Regions from separate parts of the Homo sapiens genome. Here regions 1 and 3 are each linked to region 2. The links come from fine-mapping of genetic effects on gene expression. A gene starts in region 2. Each other region holds a variant in brackets. All regions are shown on one strand. Distances are from middle to middle. Region 1 overlaps AXL (AXL receptor tyrosine kinase). Region 2 holds the start of AXL (AXL receptor tyrosine kinase). Region 3 overlaps HNRNPUL1 (heterogeneous nuclear ribonucleoprotein U like 1).

Evidence for each region. PIP is the estimated chance that this variant, and not a neighbour inherited with it, causes the effect.
Region 1: its variant is the best candidate, but not a certain one, in a credible set for the expression of AXL in monocytes after LPS (Quach 2016, PIP 0.54).
Region 3: its variant is the best candidate, but not a certain one, in a credible set for the expression of AXL in thyroid (GTEx, PIP 0.66).

The regions. Positions count from the first base shown.
Region 1 is chr19:41,236,850-41,242,070 of GRCh38, reverse strand. AXL (AXL receptor tyrosine kinase) reads right to left here. Exons shown (of 20, transcript NM_021913.5): 7 at 3,917-4,127; 8 at 3,462-3,601; 9 at 2,757-2,907; 10 at 2,351-2,377. Among named protein-coding and RNA genes, the nearest start is that of AXL, 20 kb to the right of the region's middle. The variant C/T (reference allele first, on the strand shown) is at 2,536.
Region 2 is chr19:41,216,090-41,221,310 of GRCh38, reverse strand. It overlaps AXL (AXL receptor tyrosine kinase), which reads right to left and starts at 2,088. Exons shown (of 20, transcript NM_021913.5): 1 at 1,834-2,088; 2 at 453-675; 3 at 65-165. The coding sequence starts at 1,918. RefSeq lists a silencer at 2,375-2,514 and an enhancer at 2,123-2,947.
Region 3 is chr19:41,266,080-41,271,300 of GRCh38, reverse strand. HNRNPUL1 (heterogeneous nuclear ribonucleoprotein U like 1) reads right to left here. Exons shown (of 15, transcript NM_007040.6): 2 at 2,956-3,078. Among named protein-coding and RNA genes, the nearest start is that of HNRNPUL1, 4.3 kb to the right of the region's middle. The variant A/C (reference allele first, on the strand shown) is at 2,380.

The sequences.
Region 1 (5,221 bases), 21 kb before region 2:
GGGTGTGGAGAAATCTCAAGCAGCATAGGTTAGTGTGAGAAATGTGATGATTGTGCAAGAAGGGTGGACTAGAGTGTAGATAAGCAGGTGAGTGGGGAAGAAGATCCTTGCAGTGTAGGATGGTGCATGAAGCGTGTGCAAGGAGGGCGGACTAAGGAACATCTTTTGAAGAGAATGCAATGACTACAAAAGGGTTTTCTTTGTCTCTTTTTTTGTTTGTTTGTTTTTTGAGACAGGGTCTCACTCTTTCACCCAGGCTGGAGTGCAGTGGCCCGGTCTCAGCTCATTGCAACCTCTGCCTCCCAGTTTCAAGCAAATCTCCTGCCTCAGCTTCTAAGTAGCTGGGATTACAGGTGTGCACCACCATGCCCAGCTAATTTTTGTATTCTTTTTTTGGTAGAGACAGGGTTTCACCATGTCTCCTGAGTAGCTGGGACTGCAGGTCTGTGCCACCTGGCTAATTTTTTTTTCTTTTCTTTTTCTTTTCTTTCTTTTTTTCTTTCTTTCTTTCTTTTTTTTTTTTTTTTGAGACAGAGTCTTGCTGTGTTGCCCAGGCTGGAGTATAGTGGCATGATCTTGGCTCACTGTAACCTCCGCCTCCCAGGTTCAAGCAATTCTTGTGCCTCAGCCTCCCGAGCAGCTGGGATTACAGGCTCGCACCACCAGGCCCAGCTAATTTTTGTATTTTTAGTAGAGATGGGTTTTCGCCAATGTTGGCCAGGCTGGTCTTGAACTCCTGACCTCAGGTGATCCACCTGTCTCAGGCCTCCCAAAGTACTGGGATTACAGGCGTGAGCCATTGCACCCGGCCACAATGGTTTCCATAAAGCCAGGAATGAGGGTGAAATAAATATCCAAAGGGGCATGGTAAGCATATACAGGGTTGGATGGCTGCTGGAAAAGTTGGGGGTGTGTGAAGTGGGAAGAGTATTCGTGAAGTCTTAGATACAAGGAGTGAGCAAGGAATTTTAAGGATGTAATTGCAGTGTGAGAGAAGTGTGCAGTGAGCATGCAAAAGATGTTAGAAGGGCAGATGAGAAGTATGGGGTGCACAGAAAGGGGGTGTAAAAAGGGCAGGGGTGGAATGGAGTGTGTAAGAAATAAAGATCATTATGTGCTGAGTATGCAAGGGGTTCAGGGTGAGTGTGCAGAGTGAGATGGGTTGGGATTAGTGAAGGGTGAGGGAATGATGTCTATGGAGTGTGCAGTAAGCATGCAAGGAGAATCGGGTGTGGGAAAGTTGTGGACAATGTTTTTCAGTGTTTGCAATGTGGAAGGTATGGTAAGTGCATACAAGGTGTGCAGAGTTTGTGAATGAGAAGTGTGTTGTGCAATGGGCCTTTGGGGTCATGTGGGAGGAACGGATTATAATGGGATATATGTGAAAGGAGGGTGGAATAAGCGTGGAAAGCGTATGTGAAGAAATGTAGGAAGGGATGTGAGGAGTATTGAAGGCTAGTGGGTTGAGTTACAAGAGTGAACCATAATAGTGCCCAGAGGGGACAATGGGTGTAGGAGGAATGTTTGAGAATTGTTAGAGAAATATTTGAGAGGGATGGATGTGAGGAGGATACCTCATTCATCCATCCATCCACCTTTCTACCCATCCATTCATCCACTCACAAATCCATCCATCTGTCCATCCATCCATTTATCCAACCATCCATTCATCCATCCATCCATCCATCCATCCACCCATCTACCCATCCATATATCCACTCACCACCCAGTCATCTTTTGTTCATCCACCTATCCACCCATCTATTAATCCATTGACCCACCCACCCATCCACCCTCCATATATCCAACCATCCATCCATCCACCCTCCATATATCCACCCACCCATCCATCCACCCATCCATCTACCCATCCATTTATCCACTCACCATCCAGTCATTTATCTGTTCACCCACCTATCCACCCTCTATTCATCCATTGGCCCACACACCCATCCATTCTCCATATATCCACCCATCCATCCATCCACCCATCCATCTACCCATCCATTTATCCACTCGACATCCAGTCATTTATCTGTTCACCCGCCTATCCATCCTCTATTCATCCATTGACCCACCCACCCATCCACCCTCCATATATCTATCCATCCATCCATCCATCTATTTGTTCATCCATCCACCCACTCATCTGTCATTGCCTGAATACCTACAATGTGCTATGCTAGGCCATTATAGGCACCTCCATCAAGGACCACACAAACTCAAGAAGTAGGTTAGAGTGATGAGTTAGAGAAACATGAAAGGGATGTGCAATGAGTATGCATGGTGACAGTGCCCCCACTAGGTGTTGAGGGTAGGGAAGGAGGAGATGGGGTGTGGAAGCCCTTACCCAGCTGGTGGACTGGCTGTGCTTGCCCTGTGAGAAGAAAGGACAGAGAGGAGATGTGCTCAGAGAGGACAAGACTGGCGTGGCACGGGTAAGGGAGTAAGGGTGTGGCACGGGTAAGGGAGTGAGGGTGTGGCACGAGTAAGGGAGTGAAGGTTTGGCACGGGTAAGGGAGTGAGGGTGTGGCA[C/T]GGGTAAGGGAGTGAGGGTGTGGCACGGGTAAAGGAGTGAGGCCGTGGCACAGGTAAGGGAGTGAGGGGTTGGCATGGGTAAGGGAGTGAGGGCAGCTCTCAGTAAGGCTCAGGGTAGGAACAGGGCCTAAGTTGCGGTAACACTGAAAGGTACAAGGAGTAAGTCAGGGCTGTCAGGGAGAGACAGGGTTGAAGCAGGTTGGGCATGGCTTTGGACTTACCTGGGCGCCAGGCCTCCAGGGGTACTGGGAGGCTCCAGGGTCCATCCCCAGCAGCAGTGTAGGCTGCCACACACACTGTCAGATTGGACACAGACCCGTCCCCCTGCAGCTCCAGGGTCACCTCTTGCCTTAGCCCTATGTCCATTAGCACCTAGGAGGTCCAGAAGTGGCATCAGGGTAGAACCTTACCCCCCAGCTGTTAAGCCTTCACTCTCGGGCTCAATGCCCCATCTCTTTCTCAAAACGCTCTCCCCATCCTCCAACTCCTCATCCTTCCTCGTCCTCCCCTTCATCTCTCATCCTCATCCTTTAACCTGTATCCCTCCATCCCCTTCTAGCTTCCCTTTCCATCCTCCCTCCCTATGTCAGGGTATTGCTAGCCCTGATAGGAGTGCCTTTGTGAAAATCAGGAAAAGGTACCCCTTCCCCAAGGTGCTATATAACTATCTGCTGTAAAATCGTTATATAGTAAATATGAGTCTGCTGAAATGCTTTTGCAGTGGTTCAAAAACAGCCATTCCCCATGCCCTCCCTTAGACCCCCTTATTCTCCCCAGAATGTGAATGTGAACCTTCCCTGAATGTGCCCCCTAGGCATAGAGCAATTGTGTACTACCCAACCTTCACAACCATCTATGTCTGCCCTGATATGTTCTCCTCCCTCCTCCCCAAGCCACTCCACTCCAATCCCACCAGCAGCACCCACCTCTGGGGTGTCCTGGCCTTGATACGCCAGCCGGTACCCTAACAGGGTACCCTGCAGGGGCGCCCGGGGCTCTTGCCAATGCACGAAGGCCTGGCTCCCATTCCGCGTAGCACTAATGTTCTCAGGGGGGCCCAGGGGCACTGGAGGACAGGGAAGAGGGGAAGCTGGCACCCCCACCTCTTCCTGACCCCCTCCCCTGTTCCCAGGAAGTGGGTGCAGGGTGCCAAGGGCACACACGTGGGCAACTCGTGCAGGCCTCCCATGAGAGGAAGCACAGGGGAGAGAAGGGCTGGGAGAGAGGCCAGCGGGCAGTGCTGCTGAGGGGTCAGAGATTGGATGGGAAGGAGATTGAGGCCATGAGGGGTAAAGGAGTGAAAGGGGACAATGGGGGTGGCACTGATATAAGCAAGGTCCGGTGGGGCAGTGGTGACGTGTCCCTCCCCAACCCTTCTTACCTCCCTCCGGCGTCTCCACAGGAAGCCAGTGGGTCCAGGATGAGGGGCCCTGGCTGCTGGTGCATGCCACGCGGATGTGATAAGGGGTGTGAGGATGGAGGCTGCCTAGCCGAAGCTGATGGGGGGGCACGGATGCTTGCGAGGTGAGGGGCTCCTCTGGGGGGTCTGGTTCTCCCGCCTGGATGCCCATCCCATCGTCTGACAGCACAGCCTGAGGAGAGGCAAGGGTGTGAGGACGGGACAGCCAAGCAATCACACGAGATGGTCACACAGCTCCCAGTGGTGGTGGTCTGGTGTGACTACACAACTTTTCAAGGGTGCGTGTGTGTTGCAGTGCCATGCTAGGATAACACGGGCACCTGGATTTGCAAAGCAAGGAGATCATTTGGCTGTATACAATGTGGTTCTGTCACCACTTCCAAAAGCCACCTCTGGCAAGACTCTTCCCTCTCTGAGCCTCAGTTTTTTCCTTGGGCACACGGGGCCTTAGAGGATCAAGTGCCTTACAGGATTGTTTAAAGATTAAGTGTAGTTATGCCCAAAGGATGCCACAGTGCATGGCGGGTGGTCAGCACCGATAATAATAGTGTGATGACAATAATAACGCAAATAGACTGGGCACGGTGGCTCCCGCCTGTAATCCCAGCACTTTGGGAGGCCAAGGTGGGCGATCACTTGAGGTTAGGAGTTCAAGACCAGCCTGGCCAACGTGGTGAAACCCCATCTCTTCCAAAAATGTAAAAAATTAGCTGGATGTGGTGGCGCTCGCCTGTAATCCCAGCTACTCGGGAGGCTGCGATAGGAGAACCACTTGAACCTGGGAGGCAGAGGTTACAGTGAGCTAAGATCACACCACTGCACTCCAGCCTGGGTAACAGAGCAAGACTCTGTCTCAAATAATAGTAATGATCATCATAATAATAGCACGATACTGTGAGGCCCCATTTATATGACATTATACTACAGGCAAAAGCAATGTTCTAGAAGCAGAAGGGTGGCCATCTCTGGGGCCTGAGGGAGACTTCTTGGGGACTGGAAGGGTCTGTGTCTTGATTTGGATGGTGGTTACATGGTGAATATGTGTGTTAAACAATCTCAAAGGTGTCCAATCTTTTGACTTTCTTGGACCACAGTGGAAGAAGAATTGTCTTGGGCCACACATAAAATACGCTAACACTAACGATAGCTGATGCGTTAAAAAAAAAAATCACAAACAAATCTCATAATGTTTTAAGAAAGTTTACGAACTTATGTTGGGCCGCATTCAAAGCCATCCTGGGCCACATGTGTTAGACGAGCTTGATC
Region 2 (5,221 bases):
TTCCCACAACCTATGAGCGCCACATGTCCTCTGACCCCTCAGGACCCCTGACCCCAGAGCTCACCCTCCAGCCCAACATAGCCAGGCTGGGACACGAAGGTCTGATGTCCCAGAAACACCAAACACTGGTACTGTCCCGTGTCGGAAAGCTGCAGGGAGGTGATTCTGACAGGGCAAGAGGAGAGACAGAGAGGTTCAGGGTCAGAGCTGGACACTGGGAGGGGGTCTGTCAGAACGGAAAGAGGGTGTCCAGTCTGGAAGCTCATGACAACCACGAAGTATGTCCTATTATTAACTCATTTTGCAGAAGAGGAAAACGAAACCTAGAGGTTCCATCACATGCTCAAAGCCGCACGGCTGACAAGTGGTCAAACTGGGGTTCCCACCCAGGTGGGCTTTCTGCCCTCTGTGTGACGGAGGTGGGAGTGGGATTCGGGGATGTGGCCACACACCTGAGCTGGCTGACCACTATCCAGTCATCCTGTTCATCCTCACCCAGGGGCACCTGGGTCTGGGTGCTGTCCGCGAGCTCCAGGATCTGTCCATCCCGAAGCCAATGTACCTCGGGGGGCTCTCCCTGAACCTGGAGCTGACACCGAAGGGTGCCCGTGAGTCCCCGGGCACCTGTGATATTCCCTGGGTTGCCCACGAAGGGACTTTCTTCAGCCTGCGTGCCTGGAGGGGAGATGGGAAGAGTTAGCTTAGGAACCCCCCAGCTCCTTCCGGCCCTCAGTTCCACCCTGTCCTTGCCTGCCCACCGGCGGCCAGGACCCCGCCAGGCCCTTAGGCCGACATAGTTGCAGAGTGACCTCAGAGTGGGGTGGAGGGCGGAGGCTCTGAGAGGAGGACGGGAGCCCTCCCAAGGGACTGGGATCTAGCGTCCATCCCGTCGGGAAGGAGGCTCGGGATCTGGCAGCCTCCCACGCCCTGCACTGCCTGGCAGGGCCAGCCCCTGCCCCCTCCGTCCTCTCTTAGGTCTCTAGAGACTTAACAGGTCGCGCTGGTGCTGGTGGATGGAGGGGAAGAATCAGGGGTTGGGGGAGAGAGATAAGGGTGGTGGTGGGGGGAGATAAGGGTGGTGGCGGAGGGAGAAGCCAGAGAAAGGCAGGGGAGATGAGACAGAGAGGAGCACAGATACAAGGCAAGACAGAAAAAATGAAGAAACAGCCCTCAAGAGAGAAGAAAAGGTGGGGGCGGAGGGGGGATACAGTCACAGAGGGAGGCTGAGAAGAGAGAGAGAGACTCAGAGAGCAGGGAGAGATAAAGGCAGAGACTGTGAAAGAGAGAGAAACAGAGACCCACAGAGATAGCAGAGCTGGAGGCAGAGACAGAGAGACAAAGTGAGAGCCTCCTCCCCAGAGATGGAGTGGACTGGTGGGGTAGGGACAAGTGGCGGGTCAGGGGGGTGGTGTTGGCAGGGAGAAGCGTTTTCCCCCAGGGCTCCAGAGCCCTCCTCATCCCACTGCCTGACTCGGTGCCCCTTCGGAAAGATTTCTTCCTTCCTGGCGACCCTCAGCTCAGCCCCTCTCCCCATGGCCCCCTTCTCAGGTCCAGCCCCCACCCCTGCCCTCAGCTTCTCCTTGTCTGTCTGTCTCTCCGGGTCCTCTCTTCTGTCCCCCCTGCCCTTCAGTTCCTCTCTCAGTCTTTCTCTCCCTCTGCCGCACTTGGTGTCTCTGAGTCTGTGTCTCCCTCCCTTGAAGTCCCTTTTCTGTGGTCCCAAGGAAACTCCCTAAGCCAGCCCAGGCCCCCCACACCTGCCATCATCCCCCACCTCCTACCCCTGCCCCAGCCCCTCCGAGGGGATCCCTGCCCCAAGGAGCCCCCATCACTCACCCCTGGGGGCCATGCACGCCCAGCCGCACAGCGCCAAGCACCAGGCCAGCGGGACCCTGCCCATCCTGGGGCACCGCCACGCCATGGGTGCCAAACTTTCCTCAGAAGTTGTTGGGCTCCCAGCGGGGGAGGGGGCAGGGCCGGGCTGTCCCCGGCCCTCCCCCCAGCTCCAGGCTCCCCGGATTTGGCACTGCCTGCCTGGCACAGCGGCAGGGGAGGCCCTTGCCACCGGCTCTGCCCAGCAGCCGCCTTCTCAGCACCCCTGCCTCCTTCCCTCACTCCCAGACTTGGGCAACCCTTTCTCCGCCCCTGGCTCCCCCTTTGCCTCCGCCCACCAGGGCCAGAGCCCAGGGGCCACCTGGACAATCAGGGGTTAACTCAAGAGAGGAGAGGATCAGCTCTTTCTTAAAGGGGCCAGGGAGGGAGCTGAGGAGGGGGAAGGGGACCCTGGTGGCTGTGCCCCCTGTCCTGAGCCAGTGAGGCCGTGTCTCTCTATCCGGGCTCTGGGCGCTGTCCCTCTGGGCTCTGTGTCTGGTAAACATTCCTCCAGAACTCCACTCCCCTCTCAGCTCAGGCCGTGACGCCCCTCTCCCCGCCTCCACCCCCAGCCCAGCCCCAGCCAGGCCTCCTTGGCCCTTCATTCCCCCTCACTCTCTCGGCTCCTCGGACAAGGACACACACACACACACACACACGCACGCACGCACGCACGCACACACACTCTTAGACGTCACTGACACACACAGGCTAGGACAAGCAGAGACACGCAGAGGGACCCAGACGGGCAGGGGCATGCTACTGGCCCACAGACACACTCAGACAAGCCAGGCCAGGAGCTCGATTCCTGGAGAAACCTCAGAGACAGGAGGACACGGCTGGGTGGGCATCCATGGGGGACACTTACTTGGGGAGACACAGATCTTCAGACACGCCAAAACCTGCATGGACGCCTAAATGGGACACCAAATACAGGCGACATGAAGGGGACCCAAGTTGGAATCCCAGTGCTACCACTAACTGTGGGCTACAGGCAAGTGACTGGCCTCCTGAGCCTCAGTTTGTCCATCTGTAAAATGGGAATAAGAATAGTTGTTGGCCGGGCACAGTAACTCACTCCTGTAATCCCAGCACTTTGGGAGGCCAAGGTGGGAGGATCGCTTGAGCCCAGGAGTTCGAGACCAGACTGGTCAATGCACTGAGACCCCCATCTCTACAAGAAGTTTAAAAATTAAAACTTAACCAGGTATCATGGCGTGTGCCTGTGGTCCCAGCTACTAGGGAGGCTGGAGTGAGAGGAACGCTTGAGTCCAAGAGATCGAGGCTGCAGTGAGCCCTGATCATTCCACTGCTCTCTCCTTCTGGTGGGACTGTGTGTCCTGGTTATTGCAGATCTGCTGCCTGCGTATCGGCTCTGCTGCACTTCCATTCCTCGGCCCTGTGTGTTTGGCACGTGGAGGGCTCTGCATGCCTGGATGTCTGTGAGGAGGAGGCTGGGCGTCTATCCCTCTGCTCTTGGCCACCTGTGTTTGGGTACTGGTATACCTACGGTGCATCATAAAGTCCTATCTGTTTGGCCTCCTGATGTCTCTTCTACCTGCCCCTTCCCAGCACCCCCGTCTGATCCTGCCTTCTCCTGCCTCTACTGTCACTCCTTTCTCCCATTTAGCAACCAGAGGACTGTTTCTGAAAGTCAAATCCTACCCTGTCCCTTCTCTGCTTGCCCATGGCCTCCTGCTGCCCTCAGGGCAAGCTCCCAGCTCCTTGTCACTGGCCACTTAGGGCCCTTCACCGTTGTCTCCCTGGGCTGTGTCTTTTTTTTTTTTTTTTTTTTTGAGACCCAGTCTTGCTTTGTTGCCCAGGCTGGAGTGCAATGGCTCGATCTCGGCTCACTGCAACCTCCATCTCCTGGGTTCAAGTGATCCTCCCACCTCAGCTTCCTGAGTTGCTGGGATTACAGGTGTGCACCACCATGCCAGGTTAATTTTTGTATTTTTGGTAGAGACGGGGTTTCACCATGTTGGCCAGGCTGGTCTGGAACTCCTGAACTCGTGATCTGCCCGCCTCGGCCTCCCAAAGGGCTGGGATTACAGGCGTGGGTCACTGTGCCCGGCCATGGGCTGCTGGCTTCTGTTGCTCCTTCCAACCTGTCTCCCACTCAACAGTCAGAAGGCTTCTTCCCAATCTCAAACCAAACCCTTTCCCACCTCTGCCCCAAACCTTTCAGCAGAACCCTAAACTCCTTATGTTTCTGTGACCCTCCCCTCGCCTCCCCAGGCTTCTCTCGCTTTCTCACCCAAAGAGCCCCCTCAGAGGACTTGGAGCAACCTCCTGCAGCACTTTGTCCCCAACTCTATCATCCCTTCTCCATCGCATCACTGCCTGGCCCCCCCAGCCCAATCTAGGTCCTCATATTGTTCACTCCCAACATGCTGTCCCTTTCCTTGGCAACACTTTGCCTGGGTTGTCATTATATATTTATTGGCATGATTATGTGTCTCACATCTGTCTCCTCCCACTGGCCTGTGGGCTCTGCGGGGGAAGGGACTGGGTATATTTTGGGAACTGCTGCATCTTCACCGCCCTGTAAAAGGCCTGCCATAAAGGGGACAATTCCTTATTGTGGCATTTTTTTTTTCTTGAGACAGAGTCTCACTCTGTCGCCCAGGCTGGAGTGCGGTGGCTGTATCTTAGCAGACTGCAAACTCCACTTCCCAGTTCAAGCATTCTGTCTTCTTGCTCTGTCATCCAGACTGGAATGCAGTGGCGCCATCATAGCTTGCTGAAGCCTCAAACTCCTGGGCTTATGTGACCCTCCTGCCTCAGCCTCCCCGAGTAGCCAAGACTATGTGTGCAAGCACACCTGGCTAATTTTAAAAAACTGTTTTAGGGGCCAGACGTGGCTGCTCAAGCCTGTAATCCCAGCACTTTGGGAGGCCGAGGCGAGTGGATCACGAGGTAAGCCTGGCCAATCATTCCACCTGGGCCTCCTAAAGTATGGGATTATAGGCGTGACCCACTGCGTGACCCACTGTGTGATCCACTGCACCCAGCCCGATCTCTTTTTTTCTTTTTGGTTGGGGAGATGGTCTCTCGCTGTCACCCAGGCTGGAGTGCAGTGGCGCAATCCGGGCTCACTGCAAACTCCAACTCCCAGGTACAAGAGATTCTCCTGCCTCAGCCTCCTGAGTAGCTGGGACTGCAGGAACTACCGTAATGCCTGGCTAATTTTTGTATTCATAGTAGAAATGGGGTTTCACCATGTTGGCCAGGCTGGTCTCAAACTCCTGACCTCAGGTGATGTGCCTGCCTCGGCCTCCCAAAGTTCTGGGATTACAGGTGTGAGCCACCACGCTCGGCCTATTGTGGCATTTTTGAGGGGTGCAAATAT
Region 3 (5,221 bases), 50 kb before region 2:
CACAGAAAATATTCTCCTGTGGCTGAATGATCCTACAAGTCTCACAGAGCCTGACACAAATCTGCGGTTTAACCTACATTCAGTAAAGTTCTGAGCCACCCACAAGAAATGTCTGGGGATTTAACTTTGTGGATGAACCAGAATGGCGTTAGACAAAATCAACCAGATACACTAAGAAAAGGCACTGGGAGGCCACAACACAGTAAAAGCAGCACAAAACTGGGGGTCAGTCCGGGCTCCATCAGTTCTCAATAGTGGGACCCTGCTTTCCAAATAGTAAGGCACAAATGATAAGGAATGCTGCTTATTAACCAAGAGGACTAGCCTGGGAGCAAGTATGCTAGGTTGTAGCCCCAGCTCTGCCATCGGACAAGCCAACTCCTCAATCTATAAAATGGGGAGGAGAGGCCAGGCGCAGTGGCTTACACCTGTAATCCCAGCACTCTGGGAGGCCGAGGCAGGCAGATCATGAGGTCAGGAGATTGAGACCATCCTGGCCAACATGGTGAAACCCCACATCTACTAAAAACACACAAAAAATTAGCTGGGTGTGGTGGCACGCCCGTAGTCCCAACTACTTAGGAGGCTGAGGCAGGAGAATCACTTGAACCTGGGAGGCAGAGGTTGCAGTGAGCCAAGATCACACCATTGTACTCCAGCCTGGGCAACAGAGCGAGACTCCATCTCAAAAAAAAAAAAAAAAAAAAGGGAAGGGAGAGTTGGCATCATGGGGAACTTTGTTCTGTAAAGACATATACTTAACATGATTGGGAAATCCTAAGTTTAAACGATACAACACAAGGTTTTTTGTCTATTTTTTTATTAAAAAAAATATTTTCAGCAACACCAGCCCAAGAAGACACAAGGTTTTTAAATTTAATTAAAAAAAAAATTTTTTTGGAGACAGAGGCTTACTGTTGCCCAGGCTGGAATGCAGTGCTGCCATCATGGCTCATGGAGCCTCAACTTCCTAGCTCAAGTGATCCTCCCACCTCAGGGTCCAGAGTAGGTGGGACTTGGCCGGGTTCAGTGGCTCACGCCTGTAACCCCAGAACTTTGGGAGGCTGAGGCGGGCGGATCACCTGAGGTCAAGAGTTTGAGACCAGCCTGGCCAACATGGTAAAACCCCGTCACTACTGAAAATACAAAAATTAGCCAGGTGTGGTGGCAGGCGCCTGAAATCTCAGCTACTTGGGAGGCTGAGGCAGGAGAATCGCTTGAACCCGAGAGGCGGAGGTTGCAGTGAGCTGAGATCGCGCCATCGCCCTCCAGCCTGGGGAACAAGAGCGAGACTTCGTCTCAAAAAAAAAAAAAGAGTAGCTGGGGCTATAGGATTGTGCAACCATGCTCAGGTAATATTTTTATTTTTTATAGAGACAGGGTTATGTTGCCCAGGCTGGTCTTGAACTCCTGGACTCAAGCAATCCTCCCACCTCAGCCTCCCAAAGTGTTGGGATTACAGGCATGTAACAGCCATCGCACTCGGCCTGTTTTTATTTTTAAGGCAAGGTCTTCCTGTCGCCCAGGCTGCAGTGCCGTGCACGATCATAGCTTACTGCAGCCTTGAACTCCTGGGCTCAAGTGATCCTCCTGACTCAGTCTTCTGAGTAGCTGGGACTACAAGCATGTCACCATGCTCAGGCAATTTTTAATTTTTTCTAAAGACAACAGGGGTCTCACTATGTTGCCAGGCTAGTCTTGGATTCCTAGGCTCAAGTGATCCTCCTGACTTGGCCTCCTAAAGCGCTAGGATTACAAGCATGAGCCACTGTGTTCTAACCTACTTTTAATTTTAGGTTTTTTTTTTTTTTTTTTTTTTTCGTGACAGGGTCTTGCACTGTCACCCAGGCTGGAGTGTAGTAGTGTAATCATAGCTCACAGCAGCCTCAAACTCCTGGGCTCAAGTGATCCTCCTACCTTTGTCTCCTGAGTAGCTTTAACTATAGGTGTGTGCATGTAGTCAGTCATAGCCATGCCTGGCTAATTTTTAAATTTTTTGTAGAGAAGGGGTCTCACTATGTTGCCCAGTCTGGTCTGGAACTCCTGGTCTCAAATGATCCTACTACCTTGGCCTCCCAAAGTGTTGGAATTATAGGTATGAGCCAGCGCACCTGGCCTGAGGCCTGACACACACTTTCTTTTTTTTTTTTTAAATTCTGGACTTCTCAGAGCCTTTAATGTTCTAACAAGCACAGTGAATTTCCAAGAGACGATATAGCACATGCTACAGTTTCCAGACACATTTGGCTAAGGAACCCTTTTCTGAGAATCCCCTAATAATATCCCCTGAAACAATAATCTTCAGAACATGAGAAATACCAGATTAGACTTAGAAGGCTCTTTCTGGCTCCCCCATTCTAAGATTCTAAATAAGATTCA[A/C]GTATTAGTCTAGGGGTCTCAACTCTCCAGGGTGCTTATACTAACATCTTTTTTTTTTTGAGATGCAGTTTCACTCTTGTTGCCCAGACTGAGTGAAGTGCAATGACGCGATCTCGGCTCACTGCAACCTCCGCCTCCTGGGTTCAAGTGATTCTCCTGCCTCAGCCTCCCAAGTAGCTGGGATTACAGGTGCCTGCCACCATGCCTGGCTAATTTTTGTATTTTTAGTAGAGACGGGTTTCACCATATTGGCCAGGCTGGTCTCGAACTCCAGACCTCAGGTGATCCACCTGCCTCGGCCTCCCAAAGTGCTGGGATTACAGGAGGGAGCCACCACACCCGGCTGATACTAACATCACTTTTTTACAGATACCATGGAACCTCCCCTCTCCCAACACTTGGAAATAGGACTGAGATCTTTCCTTTAAACAATTCTTGCCAGAGTGACAATGTTTAGATGAACTGCCCAAGAAAAAAGATGCACAGTTTCTCTGGGAAGACCCGCTCTAAGCAGGGGGTAAAGGCTCCATGTAGATTGTTTCCATCCAAAGAGATGAACCATGTGTATTTTCCTACCTGGACGATAGGCCTGCTGCTGCTCCATTTCCAGTGGTCTCCTCTCGTAGCCTGACTCGTTTTCTTGTTTGATGACTTGGGTATCGTAGAATTGGTTCTGCCTGGTAATATTGTCCATGGCATCTTAAAACAAAATTAAAAATGGCCAATTAGAGGGGCGGTTCATGAAGAACCCTGGACCAAAGCATCCAGAAGGCATCTGCAGGTCCAGGAGCTCAACTAAGAGTGGTAAGAATAATAATATTAACTATTCATGGCATGCATACTATACTCCAGAGCCTGGGATACAGCTGAAGACAAGCTTGCCCCACTGAAGCCTTCAGTTTAGTGAGACAGACAAATCTTAAAGACACACAAAAATTTAATATGATTGTGTTGAAGGCTACAAAGTAGTACCAGGAATGAAGAAAGGGACCTGGAAAATAACAGATAAGCCTTGATTCAAAGGATACACAGGTAATGACTCAGTGATGAGAATGGAGAATGTTACTGGGGTTGGGATAACACGTGTGAAAGCTCAGAGGTGGAACTAAAACCAGAAATTCCCTCAAGAACCTTGCAGCCAAACCCAGAGAGAACTTTAGAAAGCTAGGATGGGCAGCATACAGGCTCTCCTCCCCAGGGGCTAGCTCTCAGTTAGGGCCCCAAGGGCCCTACCAGTGGCTATGCCAGGAGCCGTGAGCCAGAACCAAAGGGAAGGAGAGACTATTCTGCCACTTGCTAACTGATCGGATTCCTTCTCAGAGGATAAATACATCTGGGCACAAACCAGGTGCAGCCCAAAGGGAGGAAAGTCACAGGTCATGTGGTTTGCTACCGGTCTGTTTACCAAGGTTGAAGGAGGGCTTAAGGGAGGCATGAAGGGGGCTCAAAGGACTTTGTTGTAGCAAGTAAGGGAGAGAGGAAGAAATAGCATTATCTCCTTAATTGGAATATGGGGCCCTTTCAAACTATTCTGCTGCTTCCAGGCTCCAAGCACAATGCTCCTCTTCCCACAAAGCCTCTTTTCCCCAGCATCTCTCTCCTGTGTTCACAGAGGCAGCCCCTCCTGGAGAAGCTATAATTCTAGGGTCCTTCTCCATTCTCTAAAACATCCCTCTTCTCATAAAAGGCAGGCCCAGTGATAAGCCCTTCACATGTGATCTCATTCATAACACCCCTCAGGGGTTGGAGGGGCTGTGAACACACTATTTGTTGATTAACCCCATTTTACACATTAAGGAAACCAGGCCCACAGAGGTGAAGTGACTTGCCAATATCTTTAAGCCAGATTTGAAACGAAGTCTGTCTTAGTCTAGAGTCTACGCTCCAAAGCACCTAATTCGCTTTCCTCTCAGAGATGACTCTCTGCCCAGACCACCAGGTCACTACTAACCCACTACCCTTTCTTGCTAGGCATTCCTGCCACGATCCCTCCTGCTCTAGACACACACACAGGCCCACTCCTTTCTTCACAAGTCTCTGCAATGGGAAGTCCTCTTTCCAGCACCTGGGTCCTCGATAATCTCTAGGCCACTGCCTACCCCAAATCCACACTCCTCCCTCCGGGAAATTCTCTTATGAACAAGTATCCAATTCCAACCCCAAATCCTGTCTCTTCTGTTACCTCATTTCTCTCCTTATCCCCTTAGCCCCAAGTCCCAGGGTGCCCTCTTTTCAGAAAAACTCCACAAACTCTTACGCCAGAATCCCTTCTACTTACTCCTTAACCTTTCCAGTCCCCCCATTTCCCAGTCCTACTAGAAAGCTGCCCTGAGGCCTGGTGCAGTGATTCACGCCTGTAATCCCAGCACTTCAGGAGGCCGAGGTGAGATCACCTGAACCCAGGAGTTCAAGACCACCCTGGGCAACATAGCGAGACCCCCCATCTGTATTTAAAAAAAAGAGAAAGAAAGCTGCTTTTTTCTTTTTTGAGACGGAGTTTCACTTTTGTTGCCCAGGCTGGAGTGCAATGGCGTAATCTCGGCTGACTGCAACCTCCCCCTCCCAAGTTCAAGCGATTCTCCTGCCTCAGCCTCCCGAGTAGCTGGGACTACAGGCGCACACCACCAGATCCGGTTAATATTTGTATTTTTAGTAGAGACAGGGTTTCACTATGCTGGCCAGACTGGTCTTGAACTCCTGACCTCGTGATCCGCCCGCCTCGGCCTCCCAAAGTGCTGGAATAACAGGCGTGAGCCACTGCACTCGGCCCGAAAGCTGCTTTTTTTCTAACTGAAGATTCACGCCGTCCCATATCAGGTTTTCCTCTCCTCAGACAACCGCA